Linked DNA regions of Homo sapiens: region 1 is linked to region 2. The links come from fine-mapping of genetic effects on gene expression. A gene starts in region 2. The other region holds a variant in brackets. All regions are shown on one strand. Distances are from middle to middle. Region 1 overlaps QDPR (quinoid dihydropteridine reductase). Region 2 holds the start of QDPR (quinoid dihydropteridine reductase).

Region 1 (8,339 bases), 27 kb before region 2:
CAATGTTCAGTTTTGCCAACACAGAGTGTTGGAGGAGGGGGCTTCCTTTCCTGGTTCTGGTGTGCTTCCATATGGTTCCTGCCACATGGTTACCATGTACATGTGAGGGACATCCAGCAGCACTTCATGCACCCTGGCAGGGTGCTTCCTGCTTCCCCAGTGGCTGTAGACCAACACAGGCCCAGGGAACCCAACAAACTCTGCTGTCCAGTGCCATAACTTCTCCATGTCCACCTCTCTATGTCCTACTCTATGTCCACCGCCATACCTTCTCCAATGAAGCTCAGGTCCCAGCCTTGGGGAGGGACTTGTCTTCCAAATTTGTTCCTCAAGTGCTGTCCCTCGGCACAAGAATATTCTTCAGAGTTCTCATTAGCCTTTTAGAATTAATCTTTGCTACTCGATAATTCTTTATATTACACTGACCTCATTCACAATACTGCATGGCTTCTGTCTTCTGGACCCTGGCCAACACATTCCCTTAGTGATCTCACCTAGTCTCATAACTTTAACTGCTTAGGACCCCCAGATCTCTCAGGACCCCTAGATCTCTCTCTCTCTCAAACACCAGACTTAATACAACTGCCCACTTAACATCTCCACTGGGGTATTAATAGAGTAAACCTCTATGTCCAAAACAACACTCCAGATACTCCCAATACTTGCTCTATCCACAGCCTTCTCTATCACACTTGCTAACTTAATCCATTTGCTCACGTGAAAAACTTTGGGAGACATCACTGACTCTTTTCTCTCTTACCGTCACATTAAATCCACCAGGAAATCCTCTTGAATCTGTCTTCAAAATATCCACCATTTCCCAATTCTCCTCTCACGACCTCCACTGCTACCACCCTAACCACTGTCATTTCTTGCCTGGATTCTTGCAAAAACCTCAGTACTATCCTCAACACAACAGCCAGAGCAATCTTTTAAAATATATCATGCCACTCTTTCGCTCAAAATCCTTGCGGTAGTTCCCAAAATCCAAAACCAAATCCTTAAAATGCCCAACACCCCCTTACATTTGCTATTCCCAAACTGTGCACCAAGGCACTCCAAGGCAGCATTCACAGGGACTCTACAGGGTACTTTCCATGTTCTAGGTCATAGAGCAATATCAGTCATATTACTACTATAAAATTGTTAGAACCCAACCACTTGTAAATCCAAATCATTAGTTAGTTTCTTTGATGTAGGGGCATTGTAAAAAATTACTGAGACACTAAGGGCACTGTGGGCCTAGAAAATTGGGGGACCCCTACCCTACACAATCATCTGTCTGATCTTATCTCCTGAAACTGCCCCTCTGTTTGCTCCATTCTCTGCCCCAGCCAACCCAGCCTCCCTGTGTTCCTCACCCCACCTGGTACACTACTGCCTCAGGCTCTTTGCAATGACTGGTTCCTCTGTCTTAAAATGTCCTTACCTCAGATGCCCTTGGCTGCCTTCTACACTTTCTTTCAGATGTGTTCAAACGTCACTTCCTCACGAGATATTCCATCACTGCCTGTATTAGTGTGGGCTGCCATAACAAAACACCACAGAGTGGGTGGCTTAACATCACACATTTATTTTCTCTGTTCTGGAGGCTGAAAGTCCAAGACTGAGGCTCCAGTCAATTCCATCTCTTGTGAGGGCTCTCTTCTCAGCTTGTGGACGGCAGCCTCCTTGCTGTGTCCTCACACAGACTTTCCTCAGTGCATGCGTGTGGGAAGAAAGTGAGAGGGAGAACTCTGGTGTCTGTCCTCATAAGAACACTAATCCTGTTGAATCAGTGCCCATCCTCACGAACCCATTTCATCTTAGTTACTTCCTTAGAGGCCCCATCTCCAAATACAGCCACATTAGAGTGAGGTCTTGAACATACAAATTTGGGGGAGACACCCACATTCAGTTCATAACACTACCATTTCTGAAATTGCAATCCCAATCTCCCCAACACTCCTTCACCCCCTTACCTTGCTCTCTTCCCCCCACAGTTCACCTTTCTCGTACTCTCCAATGAATTCATATTATGAATTCTATTGTTTATTATCTGTCACCCTCTCCCCCATCTAGAATAAAACTCAATGATTAAGGGTAGGAGTCTTTGTCTACTTGTTCTTTATGTGTCCCAGGCATCTAGGTTAGTGCCTTGTACACAGTTGGTACTCAAGATTAGCTGTTGAATGAATGAAGGAGAAAAAACATCTCCTTCCTGGCCCCTTTTCCCTTTTCATTCTCTTTGCACATCACCAGGGAAGGAAAAGAAACACACCTCAATAATCAATTAGTTTGAGGAGAGCTGGTAGTCTTCATTCCATTTAGAAACCAGATCTGGTATTCAATAATTAAAAATAATTAATAATTAATAAGCAGCCCAAATTTCCACCAACGGATGAGTAGGTAAACACCAGATTAAAAGACTTCCAAGCAGTCCATGATTCTAGCATACTCATCTATGACTGCTGGATATGAGATGTGATTTGATTAAAGAGACAGGCCAGGCACGGTGACTCACGCCTGTGAATCCCAGCACTTTGGGAGGCCGAGGCAGGCGGATCACGAGGTCAAGAGATTGAGACCATCCTGGCCAAAGTGGTGAAACCCCGTCTCTACTAAAAATATAAAAATTAGCTGGGTGTAGTGGTGCACGCCTGTAGTCCCAGCTACTCGGGAGGCTGAGGCAGAAGAATCGCTTGAACCAGGCAGGCGGAGGTTGCAGTGAGCCGACGTCATGCCACCGCACTCCAGCCTGGGTGACAGAGCGAGACTCTGTCTCAAAATAAAAAGGCAACACGATAAATGAAGTGCATTTATTAGGATAATCAACAGTTACCAGGTCCGGTTCTAAACGGAATGAAAACTACCAGCTCTCCTGAAACTAACTGTACCCTCGTTAAGTCTCTTAGTGTGTGGAACTGTTTCTTCATCTGAAAATTGAAAACAACAAGACATGCAAGGTACAGCATGAGGTAATGTGCTCAGGGTGCTTTCAACAGCTAGACTTGTATACTAGTTCCAGCTGCGCAGCTCTCTAGCTAGGTGACTTTGAACAAGCAGTCCAACCTTCTGAGCTCCCATTTTCTTTCCTGTAATAGTTGGATAAAATCACCTCGTAGTGGCAAGAATCAAGAGACTTCTCAAAAGTTAAACATAGAGGCCAGGCGCAGTGGCTCACAGCTGTAATTCTAAGCACTTTGGGAGGCCGAGGCAGGTGGATCACTTGAGGTCTGGAGTTTGAAACCTGCCTGGCCAACATGGTGAAACTCTGTCTCTTCCATCTCTACTAAAAATACAAAAAAAAAAAAAAAAAATAGCCAGGTGTGGTGGTGGACACCTGTAGTCCTAGCTACTCGGGAGGCTGAGGCAGGAGAATCACATGAACCTGGGAGGTAGAGGTTACAGTGTGCTGAGATCGCACCACTGCACTCCAGCCTGGGCAACAGAGCAAGACTCCATCTCAAAAAAAAAAAAAAGATAAACACAAAAATTACCATATGGTCGAACAATCCTGCTCCTAGGTATATATCCAAAATCATTGAAAACAGATACACAAACACTTATACATGAATGTTCACAGCGGCAATGCTCACAACAGCCAAAAGGTGGAAACAGCCCAAATGTCTATCAACAGATCAGTAAACAAAATTGCAGTGGATACATATAATGGAATATTATGCCACAAAAAGAAAGAAAGTACTGATACATGATGCAATGGGGAAGAACATGGAAAACATAAAGCTAGGTAGAAGCAGCCAGATACAAAAGGTCACATACTGATTCCATTTATACAAAATACCCAGAACAGGCCAGGTGCAATGGCTCACGCCTGTAATACCAGCACTTTGGGAAGACAAGGCAGGAGGACTGCTTGAGTCCAGGAGTTTGAGACCAGCCCGGGCAACATAGCAAGACCTGTCTCTACAAAAAACTTTAAAAAATATCTGGGTGTGGCAGCACGTGCCTGTAGTCTCAGCTCCTCGAGAGGCCAAGGTGGGAAGATTGCTTGAGCCCAGGAAATCGAGGCTGCAGTGAGCCATGTTCATGCCACTGTACTTCAGCCTGGGTAAGAGCAAGACTGTCTCAAAAAAATAGTAATACCCAGAATTAATTCACAGAAACAAAATGAAGATTGGTGGTTGCAGGGGTTAGGGAGCAGGAATGGGGAGGAACTGCTTAAAGAGCTCTGGTTTTTCTTTTGGGGTGATGGAAATGTTTGGGAACTAGACAGAGGTGGTGATTATGCACTACTGTAAATGTGCTAAATGCCACTGAACTGCTCACCTACTTAACTTTTAATACTTAAAATTAGCCTTAAAATGGCTAATTTTGGCCGGGTGCAGTGGTTCACACCTGTAATCCCAGCACTTTGGGAGGCCGAGGTGGGCAGATCACAAGGTCAGGAGATCAAGACCATCCTGGCTAACACGGTGAAACCCCGTCTCTACTAAAAATACAAAAAAACTTAGCCGGGTGTGGTGGTGGGCGCCTGTAGTCCCAGCTACTCGGGAGGCTGAGGCAGGAGAATGGTGTGAACCCAGGAGGCGGAGCTTGCAGTGAACCGAGATGGCGCCACTGCACTCCAGCCTGGGCGACAGGGTAAGACTCTGTCTCAAAAAAAAAA[A/T]AAAAAAATTATGTGAATTTCACCTCACTAAAAAAAGAAAGAAAATACGTGGTAAAGGCCTTTAAAAACAGCAACTGTCTGGTGACTAGAGATCTGGGCTTAGCTCTGCCAGTTACTGGCAACAAGGTAATGTCTCTCTGGGCCTCAGTTTCCTCATCTGTAAAATGATCGGGTTGGATTAAACCACTACTAGTTCTCAACCAGGACAGCCTACATTGGCCATATGTGGAGAGCTGCTTCTAAATGCACAGGGCCATCCCATCACCCCCAGATTTTGACATGTCCAAGGCAGAATCAGGCCTGTGTTCTTGTGTTGAAATATTTATTTCAGGATTTAAATCCACCCCCTTCTGAGAACATCAGATTAAAAGACCTCCAGCAATCCATGATTCTAGTATACTCATCTCTGACTGCTGTATATAAGATGTGATTTGATTAAAGAAGACAGACAACAAGTGCATTTATTAGGAACAACATTCTGAATACTCACGAGTAGTTATCTTGCACACTTAACCCTAGGCCAGAGGACACGGGGCAACCACACAGGAAAAGGATACCAGGACAGAGTCCATGTAGTTTTGCTTATACCACAAAAGGAGTTAAGGCAGTTTAATTCAAGGATGCGAAAACTACGTCTATGACATAAACATGACATTCAAAAATAACTCAGCCTTTAAAATGTCCCCAATACCAACAAATCAACAAAGTAGTCAAGATGACAGCCACTGTCAAGGACAGATGAACAGTCACAAAAGCGATCCAACATGACACCGCTATAGCAGGTGCTATGCAGAGCCCTCCCTATGCAGTTAACACAGATCAACGGATGCTATTTGCAGGCCACCAGTCTCGCATGTCTTTACTTCACATAAATGTATTACACTGTCCTAGGAGAGCAAATGCATATTATGTGAGAGAAAAATAGGACTCATTATCTCGTACCACAAACAGGGGTTACAGAAAACACAAGGCTGGACAAGGCCACACTGAGACAGGTTAGTGACTTTTCTGGCAGGCCCCTCATAGGCACTGAGATGAGGCCTAAAAATATGCTGGGGTGAGTTCCGTCCTTCCTTCTGTGGTTACCACCTGGATTAGGCTTCCTGAGCTCGGTCGGTTTTTCCCTGTGATCCAGTCATGGAAAGTTCTGGAACAGAAAATAAAAGTTTTTTTTATATTCTCAAAGCAAAAATCTGGGCACATGCTGACCTTCACAGTGACGGCTTGTGGGGTGGGGGGAAGGGGTGGCACAGCAGCGACTGTTTAAAAGCCACTAAGGGCTGGGCGCCATGGCTCACACCTGTGATCCCAGCACTTTGGGAGGCCGAGGCGGGCAGATCGCTTGAGGTCAGGAGTTCGAGACCAGCCTGGCCAATATGATGAAACCCCATCTCTACTAAAAATACAAAAATTGGCCGTGGTAGCACGTGCCTGTAATCCTAGCTACTCAGGAGGCTGAGGAAGTAGAATCACTTGCACCCGGGAAGCAGAGGTAAGCCGAGGTTGCACCATTGCACTCCAGCCTGGGCATCACAATGAGACTCCGTCTCACAAAAAATAATAAATAAATAAATAAATAAAAGCCACTAAAGGTCAGGCATTATGGCTCACCCCTATGATCCCAGCACTTTGAGATGCCAAGGCGGGCGGATCGCTTGAGCCCAGGTGTTTGAGGCCAGCCTGGACACAATGGCAAGATTCCATCTCCAAAAAATAATAAAAAATTAATAAAAGCCAGTAGGCATGATGGACACATACCCAGGCCCCCAGTGAGTTCAGTGGTGTACTCATTCTAATCTCTGAGTGGCAGGATTTGGCATAAGTTTAACTTTCATTTTGGTATTTTTCTACATTGTTGGAATTCTTTTGTGATTTTAAAAGATTCTAATTTGGCCAGGCGTGGTGGCTCACACCTGTAATCTCAGCAATTTGGGAGGCTGAGGCAGGTGGATCACTTGAGCCCAGGAGTTTTTGAGACCAGCCTGGGCAACTGGGTGAAACCCTACCTCTAAAAAAATACAAAAAATAGCTGGGCATGGCACATGCCTGTAGTCCCAGCTACTCAGGAGGCTGTGGTGGGATGATTGCTTGAGCCCCGGAGATCAAGGCTAGGGTAAGCCATGATCGTGACACTGCACTCCAGCCTGGGTGACCCAGTGAGACCCTGTCTCAAAAAAAAAAAAAATTGTTTTTAAAGATTTTAATTAGTTCATTCAAAGAGAGAGACACATGCACAATACTTTGCTATATTACCTTCTCATAAATTTATGAGAGAAACAGATGCAATTCATTTATTTGGCATTTTTTTAATCAAACATTTATAGAGTACCCACAGCTGCACCAAACAATGGAAAAAGAGATAGAAAAAAACAGACTATTACAATAAAATGTTAAATACAGTAACAGGGCCTTTCACAAATCTGAGGAGAGGAGCAACTGACCCCACTTGCAGCAGTCAAAAAGACCCTCTAAGAAGACAGGAATGAAAAAGGGCAAAAGAAATTCACAAGAAACAAGAAGTAGATGATAATTCTTTAACACAAAACATTTACATTTGAGTACATCATCCATTTTGACAATTCACCAGCTGAGACTTCGGACCTTCATTAACTAAAAAGTGCTCAGCATTTCCTTCCTGGGAGACTCCCAGTGCCAATCTGTAACCTTCTGGGCCAGCGCTGATGTGTAAAGGTCCAGTCATTCAGGCCCCTACTCTGGGGTTTGAACAAGCTCATATGAGCACATGGGCTCAAAAAACAAAGCGTTGCTAAAACTCTCTAAAGTACTGTCATGTCATGGCCTCATCTCTGGGGACAGGGTAGGGCTTGGTGAGGGAAGGCTCTGAAAGAGACCAGTGCCGTTTGGTTGTGTAGGGTTTTGTGTGTTGGTTACACATGTTTTTTTGTTGTTTTGTTTTTTTATACTTTAAGATCTAGGCTACATGTGCACAGCGTGCAGGTTTGCTACACAGGTATGCATGTGCCATGTTGGTTTGCTGCGATGCATGTTTTAAATGGTTTTACTTCTTCACCCTCATCTGCAGCGTGGATAGGTGAGTGAGAACGCCATTCTAACCAGGGATGGTAGAGGAAGGATGTGCTCACAGACATCTCAAAGCAAACTTTATGCCAGCTTTTCTGAGAGTTTTCAAATACCACAAATGGGTGGATGTGATCTCTAGAACAAAAGGGGGCCTGTGACAGCCCGTCCTCTGTGGGTCTGTGGCTCAGCACGAGTTCAGACACAAGATCCCAGATGTTCCATCTAGAGTAGGTCTTAGATCAGTATCTCAAGTGTGGTGGGAGTGTCGGCCTTTAAAAAGAAATTCAAACACAAACACAATTCAAAGCTTGATTTCCTCTACAACTTCAATTTTTTTCCTGCAAATCAAGCATGAAGCATGATTCCTGGCATAGACAGAAATAACTGTCAGCACACCAGTTAAGACCATAGGTTCTGCAGCCACACCACTTGTGTCAGATCCCGGCTGTGCTGTGTGACCTTAGGCGAGTGACTTAGCCCCTGCCATCCCTCCAAGTCTCTAAGCCTTAAATAAAAATGACAGCTCCTCCCTCAGAGTTTGCTATGAGCATTAAATAAGAGTTATGAAGTGCTTAGAATGGTGACTGGGACATAAAAAGTGTTCTGTAAGTACACATTTCAAACATAAAACGCAAGTCCCAAATTTCTCCCGATTTAATTTAAATGAGATTGTGACATCAGGCCAGAA
Region 2 (8,339 bases):
GACAATAGTAAAACAAAAATCCTGCAAAAAACTCAAATGTACAATAAACAAACTAAATAAATTGTGGCCATTCCATAAAATGGAATATCACACATCTACAAAGAGGTTTTTTCAGTAATCTGGAGAATTATTTAAGTATAAAAAAAAAAAAAAACAAAGCTTACCATAAACTATAAAATACAAAATTACCTAAACTTGTAAAAGGAGTAACATACAATATGCATAGAAAAAGACAATAGGCCAAAATGTTAACAGTGAACTAACTCAAAATGATTATATAATTTATCTTTGTATCATTTTTCACTTTTTCCAAATTTTCCTCAATGAACACAAATGGCTTTCCTAGTTAGAGAAACAACAGCTTTAAAAAAAAGGAAGAACAGGCCAGGCGCGGTGGCTCATGCCTGTAATCCGAGCACTTTGGGAGGCTAAGGCGGGCGGATCACAAGGTCAGGAGTTCAAGATCAGCCTGGCCAACATGGTGAAACCCCGTCTCTACTGAAAATACAAAAAATTAGCTGGGGGTGGTGGCAGGCACCTGTAATCCCAGCTACTCAGGAGGCTGAGGCAGGAGAATTGCTTCAACCCAGGAGGCAAAGGTTGCAGTGAACGGAGATCATGCCACTGCACTCCAGCCTGGGCGACAGAGCAAGACTCCGTCTCGGGGAAAAAAAGAAATAAAAGGAAGAACATACAGCCAAAGGAAGAACATACAGCCAGTGGTCACCTCTCCCCAGGGTTCCCCTCACAATGTTTGGGGGCCTTTTTGAAACTACCTGGTCAGCCTGCTCAGTGAACGAGTCTGTCATTTTAACAATGATGCTAGCGCTGGCCTCTTCATTCTCCACCACATCAACGCTGGCAACCCACTGGAAGGAGAAAACAGCTTTGGTTAAGAGGCAGTGAGTTGTTATTCCATGAAAGAGTCACACATAGAAATGAGGGGAGTTGGCCAGGTGTAGTGGTTCACGTCTGTAATGCCAGCACTTTGGGAGCCAATGTGGGAGGATCTCTTGAGGCCAAGAGTTTGAGACCAGCCTGGGCAACATAGCAAGACCCAGTCCCTACAAAAAAATTTTAAAATTAGTCAGGTGTGGTGGCACATGCCTGTAGCCCCAGCTACCCGGGAGGTTGAGGCGAGAGGATCACTTGAGCTCAGTGAGCTATGATCGCACCACTGTACTCCGGGCTAGGCAACAGAAGGAGGCCTTATCTCCATTTAAATAAAAGAAAAAGAAAAAGAAAGAAAAATAAAGGAGCAGAGTGGAGACAGGTAAGAGGCTTCAATGAAAACACACCCTATATTGGGCTCCATCCCAGGCCCTCCTACCTCCAAACACTCTACTCCGCCTCCACATTCACCTCTAAAACACAAACCCTGCACTTCTAGAGACATCAAGGGCCAGCAAATTTTCTGTAAAGGGCCAGATCACAATTACCTTAGGCTTTGCTGGCCATATGGTATCTGTTGTTACTCAAATCTGCAATTGTAACAGAACACAGCAATAAATAGGGGGAAAAAATAAGTGCAGCTGTGTTCCAATAAATCTTCAGAGCTGAAATGTGAATTTCATTAATTTTCATATACAACAAAATATAATTCTTCATTTGATTTTCTTTTCAACCACCTGAAAATGTAAAACTATTCTTAACTCTTGGGCTGTACAAAAACAGGTGGCAGACCAGATTCAGCTCACAAAGGATCCCTGTCCTGCAGCAGAGAGGGATGGACTTTAGGATTGGAAATCAGACAGATCAGGTTTGAATCCCAGCTCTGCCAGAGTGGCTTTCTCACTCCGATGCCGGGCAGAGGTTCCCAACAAAAGAGGTTGTTTGTTGATGATTAACAGGGTCAGTGTAAGAATTAAATGAAATGGAAGATGCTAAAGCTCCTGGCACAGGGGATGTTCAGTCCTTACTCAGGGTCTCTTGGTCTGAAGTCCCCAGAGATAATTATCTCTACCTTAAGCTGTAAACACAGCATCTATTCATCAACATTTGTTATATTATTAATTAACTTGTTATCCCATGGGGGATACTGAAACAATGAAAAGTCTCCATCATCCTAGCCCTCCCTAAGATGGCAGGAAGAAGCTCGGAGGGGAAAGACCAAGAGCCAGAGGTAAATCAGCTCTCCAGATTCTGCCAAGACCAAGGTAAACCAAAGTGCCACCACCAGGAGAAAGCACAGCCTTCACCCTCTAACACATGACGCTAACAGGATCTACTGCCTTAAAGATATTGGGGGCATTAAGAGTCTATGGGAACTCTGGTACTGGGAACACAGTGCCTGGCCCTTGGCAGAAGTGCTGCCTCTGTCACCACCATGCATCTCTGAAGACCTGGGAAAGCGCCCTCATCAGTGTCCCCAAGCACTGAGCAGATGGGTGGCAGGAAGGGAGTGGTGTGACTGAATTCTTCAGAAGCATATTCCTGTACCAGATTCTGAGCAACAAGAAAACCTTGGTAAATGTACACTATTTGGGTGATGGTTACACTAAAAGCCCAGACTTCACCACTACACAACATATCCATGTAACTAAACTGTACTTTTGCCCCCTTCATCTATAAAAATTAGATAGTTTTTTTTTAAAGAAAATCCTGAAAGCCTTTTTCTGGTCCCAGGGGAACTCTTGCCCAGGCTGCTGTGCTGCTGCTGCTAACTAAGCTCCCAGAACGCTGCCGCTGGCAGTGTCTCCACCGGGAAATTGCTGAGGCCTGCTGAGCGGCTGAGGTCAAGGGTCTTTGGCCATGTATCAGCTCTGCTCCGACTTGCCGCCTCCTGGAAATTGACACCTGACTATGCAAAGTAGTTGAAATAGTCTTTGCAGAGCAAAGAAGCCGTCAGCGTTTTTCCGTGCTGAGCCTTCAAACTGTCAGATCCAATGGGGCTAAAAGAACAGGGGTGGGTAGTAATAGTAACATTAATAGACAGCATTTAAACAGTTTTTACCAGGCGTCAGGTAATTTATGTGCAACGACACCAATTATCTCATCTAATCGTCCCAACTCTCACTGTCAGAATCTCCGTTGTACAAATGGGGAAACCGAGGTCCTACGGCGTTAGGTAATCAATACGCGGTCTCATGACTAGTAACCGGGACTGGGCTGTCTCATTCTAGAGCCTTCCTTCTACACTCTCTCTCCGTCCTCTCACCCCTGCTCCCGTTCCTCCCCTTTGGAATTCTCTCCCGAGTCACGCCGGACTTTTTGGGTCTGGCGGAGGCCCACGGAGCACCTCCTTGCACAGCAAAGGCCCAGCGCCCTGGGACTGGCGTGCGCACGCACTCGGAAACAGGAATAGACGCGTAGACCTGTGCGCGCACGTGCAAGCAACACGAGTCAGGGGGTGCACAGGGGCCCCCACCTTCCTCTAGACTGCCCCCCGCCGGGTTCCACACGAAAGCCCCCGGCCACCCCCGCGGAGACCCAGCAGCCCCAGCCCGCAGCATTACCCAGTTGCGGGCCCGAAAAGCCTGCACGCATCGAGAACCCAGAGCGCCCCTGCCGCCGTACACCAGCACCCGGCGCGCCTCGCCTGCAGCCGCCGCCGCCGCCATCCTGCTCCTGCCAGCCCGGCTCCCGCAGCTCCGAATGCCTCGAGCCGGAGCGCCGCGCCCCGCCCCGGCCGGCCAACCCCGCCAAGAGGGAACGCGCGGCGGCCGCGCCCCGCTCCGCGCCCGCTGCTGCCGCCTAGCGCGCTGCCACGCTCGGGGCGCCCCGCCACCCGGAGGGACTGTAACTTCGGCCAGGCCCTGCCCCTGGGACGGGGACATCGGCGAAGCCCCTCCTCCCACCCGCCAGCAAGTGCTGGGCCTCGGGGCGTGCAGCGAGCCGGGCTAAGGGCGAGGAGGGTGGAGAGCGGGTGTTTTACGAGCATTAATTTGTGAAGTGTAAGCATGTAAAATATAGTATAGTACAATTTTCGACCACTGTTTTGGCAATTTTTTATTTTTAATTGTGCATCAAAATAGAGATTTAAGTATTCCCACCTGCCAAAAAAACAGAAGAGGTCGCTCCGCTCAAGGAGCTGAAAGTCCACCGCCGAGACGAGACAAACCACACTAGGTCTTATTTCTTCTATCTAACCGTAAATTTATACCCATTAATCCAAATGGCCCTTTTACTATATGCCACCCATCGCCAGACACAGATCCTGGCATTTTCTCCCTTGTATATTAGTTATTTCTGCCCATGGCCTGTATCTTTAACACAGAGCCTCTCATCTACAGCACTACTGACATTTTGGGCCAGATAATTATTTGTGACAGGTGCTGCCCTGGGTACTGTAGGATATTTACAGCATCCCTGGCCTGCATATACTAGAAATCAATAGCAAACCCCTACCCCTCACTCATAAGAATCAAAAATATCTCCAGATTTAACAGTTGTCTCCTAGGGGCAAATTCATCACTGATAGAGAACCAGAGCTCTAACACTCTCATAACCTTCTTGATAGCAGAACCCTGTATTACATACATCTTTGTGTCACTTCCCATCCACATATAACCTTGTACACAGCAGACACAGATGTTTGTTCAGTAAACTTGTGCCAGGTAAAGCATGCAGAAATATGTCACTAGAGAAGAGGATGCAGCCAGCAGCACATTTTGTTGTCAGAAGCTTCATTATCAGAAATAGAACTGCTAGGAGGCTGGATGGAGAGGAGAGCACCATCTATTTAGTGCTCCTTATATCCAAGGCACTGCGCTAAGTGATCTGCCTGTGCTATTTCACTTTACTCCACACGATAATCCTATGCAGATTAGAAAGCTGAGGCATGAGAGTCACAGACACTTGTCTGGAAGAGTGGGAATTTGAACACAGGTCTTCAATAGCTAGAGTTCCACTTAACCACACCTTTGTTCAGCAAGACAAAGGCTTGTTGGGAATCAAGTGTTTCCCTTAGAGTTTTTCTGAAAACAATTGCTTAACCCTCAAAACACCAAAAGTTGACACAGGTCCCTCACTGACGGCAGAAATATGACTCAATGATATTTACGCAAGTCCTGACTTGTCAAAGCATGCTTAATGTTAAAATAAGAACGTGAACTAACATTATTGATCACTTAATGTGCCAAGCAGTCTTCTGAGCCTTTTATATGTATTCTGTTATTTTTTACCAGAAAAACATTTGCTGTTTCAAAGTCACTGGGATGAAGATGAGCTGTTGTAATTCAAAGACCTGAATTTCAGCCCCAGCACTGACATCCAGTTTTTCATGAGAGAAATGGCTGAAATCGTGCATCTCCTGTTTACCTTAAAGGGTTGCTGGAGCATCAGAGGTGAGCAAGCATATGGTCAAAGCATTTTGCATTTTGTACATGGTAAAGTGCCACTCATCTGTATATATAGTAAGAGACAGGATCTCACTCTGTTACTCAGAGTGGCATGATCATAGCTCACTACAGCCTTGAGCTCCTGGGCTGGAGCAGTCTTCCAGCCTCAGCCTCCAGTAGCTGGGACTACAAATACACGCCATCAGGCCCAACTATTTTTTTTTTTTATTTTTTGTAGAGATAAGGTCTCACTACATTGCCCAGGCTCAGAAATTCTCATTTTTATTTTCATTGTGGAGTGGCCACTGAAGTGAGCCCCAGTTGCGAGGAAGGAAACTGACATTTCCATTAATGTGTCCCTCTGCTTCCTTGACACTCTCCAAGTGAGATTCCTGGGACCCCTATTGGTTAACAGTGCAACTTCCTGAACCCCCCTTCAGGCTTCTGTGACCAACTAAGAAATTTTACTGCTCCACTTTTGCCCAACTTTGCTCCCCAGAGATATGGATAGAGTGACTGTTGCCAGTCTCACATGATGTTAAGTTGATATTCAGGAATAAGGTAAAAGTCAAAATGTCAAAGTCCACAGTATAAGATAGAAAGGAAAGAATATTTCATTCCTAGTATCTACAGATTAAAAGGAAAGCCTAGATCTTCCACTATTAGAAGAGATGAATACCCCAGCAGTGTGGCTACTATTTGCTAATACACTAGAAAAACACTTTTCTCTCCCATTTCAGATAACGTAGAAGGAGGGACGGGTGAGAGCAATGTTAAGTGTTGGATTCCAGGCTACCCCAACAGCCACAAAGTAATTCTAGTCACAGTTTACCCCCAGCAGATTCACACAGTGAGAAATTCATAAGGCCCTATTTACACATTTCAATATTAAAGCCCCAAGAACCGGGGTCATTTGATGGTATTAATAACAGTCCTAAAGATTCTGACAGCAGTGACATTTCAGAGAAAGAAATGCCAGGGCACCCATGCATCAGCGAGATCGACATTTGATACTGCGCATTGTTGGCAATATTCAAGTGCTAATCATTCTGTTTTTGTTTTCCTTCTAACACATGCATTTTTTGAGATTGGTTTGCGTCTCTTAATCTTCAGAGCTACCTGATTTTGCTTATTACTAACTCCTTTATCATTACGAGGTCCACACCAGGGCTATTTAAATACTTGAAACGAGGAACAGTTAAACAGTCTGCTGAAACATTAGTCTAGGAGGAGATATAAGGTTACTTCCTTCAGTAACACACTCCGCTACATAGTCAGGTGAAGATTGTCTCTGTAGAGGCTTCTGGATGTGGTTGTAGGAAGCATGGACTGTGCAAGCTTGCGCTGAAGGAGGACGAGAGGATGGACCTACAACCTTGAAACAGAGTGTTTGGAAGAGCTGACCTTGGAGCAGAGCATTGCCGAGTATCTGAAAGATGTCAATGACCCTCGCTGCTGCTCGGAGACCTTGGGGATGACCTGCACCCACTAGCATGCCTGGATGGTTCAAAAAGGCGTGGTATGGGCTGGCGTCTTTACTCAGCTTCTCCTCCTTCATCCTGATCATCGTTGCCCTGGTAGTGCCCCACTGGCTGAGTGGGAAAATCCTTTGTCAGACTGGAGTGGATCTGGTCAACGCCACAGACAGAGAGCTGGTCAAGTTCATTGGGGACATTTACTACGGGCTCTTCCGAGGGTGTAAAGTGCGGCAGTGTGGGCTTGGGGGCCGCCAATCCCAATTCACGAGTGAGTATATTGGGAGCATGAAAGCTGATTCTAGGCACTCATTTTTGTTAATGTGTAAGAGTGCTTATGTCTCATTGTGGAATTTGGCTGCTGCCTCAACGTCAGGCATAATGTCAAAGTCCACAGTGAGCCAAGGGTTCTGGATCCACATCAAAAAGATCTTTCCTTCCTTCCTTGCTTCCTTTTCTTTTTCTGTAGAGATGTATAGAAACATTAGAAATAAGGATTTGTGCATTTTTGCAGTTTACCTCTATTAATTATGACTATTAAAATATTGAGAGTTTACACGTGTCAGACATTGTAAGCACCTCACGCCACTTGTCTCCTTAAAGCCTTACAACAAAGTTATACAGAAGGAATTGTTAATGTTCCCATTTTCCAGAGGAGTACACTGAGGCTTGGAGAGGTTACATAACTTACCTGAGGTCACCCAGCCAGGAAACAGTAGAGCCGGACTCCAGACCCATGCCACATGACCACAACAAGTGGGTGGAGGCTGCCTGCAGAACTGAACCTTTGGGAAGCATGATGACCCTTTCCACATCTACTTTTGTAAAAGCTTCATAGTCTGAGAAAATGCAAAGGGGCACTGTGCTTGGGTTCTGGAATCAGACTACCCTGGCTGAAACCCCTACTGGAAAGTTTACTGGTGGGGAGACCTCAAGCAAGGCACTTGCCTGTTCTCTGTGAACGTGAGCGGGCACCGACTTTGGCTGGCATTCAGTGTAGCATCAGAGCTGCCCAGGATGTAAGCAGAGCAGTCTGCACAAACAGGAATCCAAGCTGGACTTAGGAACGGGCTTCTGGAAAGGAAAAAACAAAACAGGCAATATTCTGCAAGCCTTTTGAATCGATGAGATCACTGGTGAAAAGTGTCTGCACAAAACCGTAATTAATCAATACCATGCCAATGTAGGGTGATACAGAATTGTATTCATTCCTTGATTTCTATATTTCAGTATTGTAGTAGTTTATAGAAATCTGGCCAAGGTAAATGTCGTATTAAATTTATAAGGACAAAAAGCTGGAACCGTTGACAAATATAATACAAATTGTCATCATTTAAACACACAAAAATTTACATTTGTTATGTATATTCAAGATCAATATGTCTGGGCATATTTATATTTACCTAGCAATTAGATTAGACCCTGGATATTGAACAAATAGCTCCATCAAAATTATAACATAAAACTTGAAAACACACACACATAAACAAATAAAAAAAAGAAATGCTAAAAGCTAACCATGACAACTACATGGACTACTCGATTCTGAACTAGATGCTTTGCTATAAAGGATGTCTTCGGGACT

Evidence for each region. PIP is the estimated chance that this variant, and not a neighbour inherited with it, causes the effect. A credible set is the group of variants that fine-mapping cannot tell apart.
Region 1: its variant is the best candidate, but not a certain one, in a credible set for the expression of QDPR in T cells (TOPMed, PIP 0.56).

Annotation. Positions count from the first base shown.
Region 1 is chr4:17,481,481-17,489,819 of GRCh38, forward strand. QDPR (quinoid dihydropteridine reductase) reads right to left here. Exons shown (of 7, transcript NM_000320.3): 7 at 4,915-5,756. The coding sequence ends at 5,651. Among named protein-coding and RNA genes, the nearest start is that of QDPR, 26 kb to the right of the region's middle. The variant A/T (reference allele first, on the strand shown) is at 4,610.
Region 2 is chr4:17,508,495-17,516,833 of GRCh38, forward strand. QDPR (quinoid dihydropteridine reductase) reads right to left here and starts at 3,596. Exons shown (of 7, transcript NM_000320.3): 1 at 3,456-3,596; 2 at 777-869. The coding sequence starts at 3,560. CLRN2 (clarin 2) reads left to right here and starts at 6,671. Exons shown (of 3, transcript NM_001079827.2): 1 at 6,671-7,025. The coding sequence starts at 6,773. RefSeq lists a silencer at 3,225-3,804.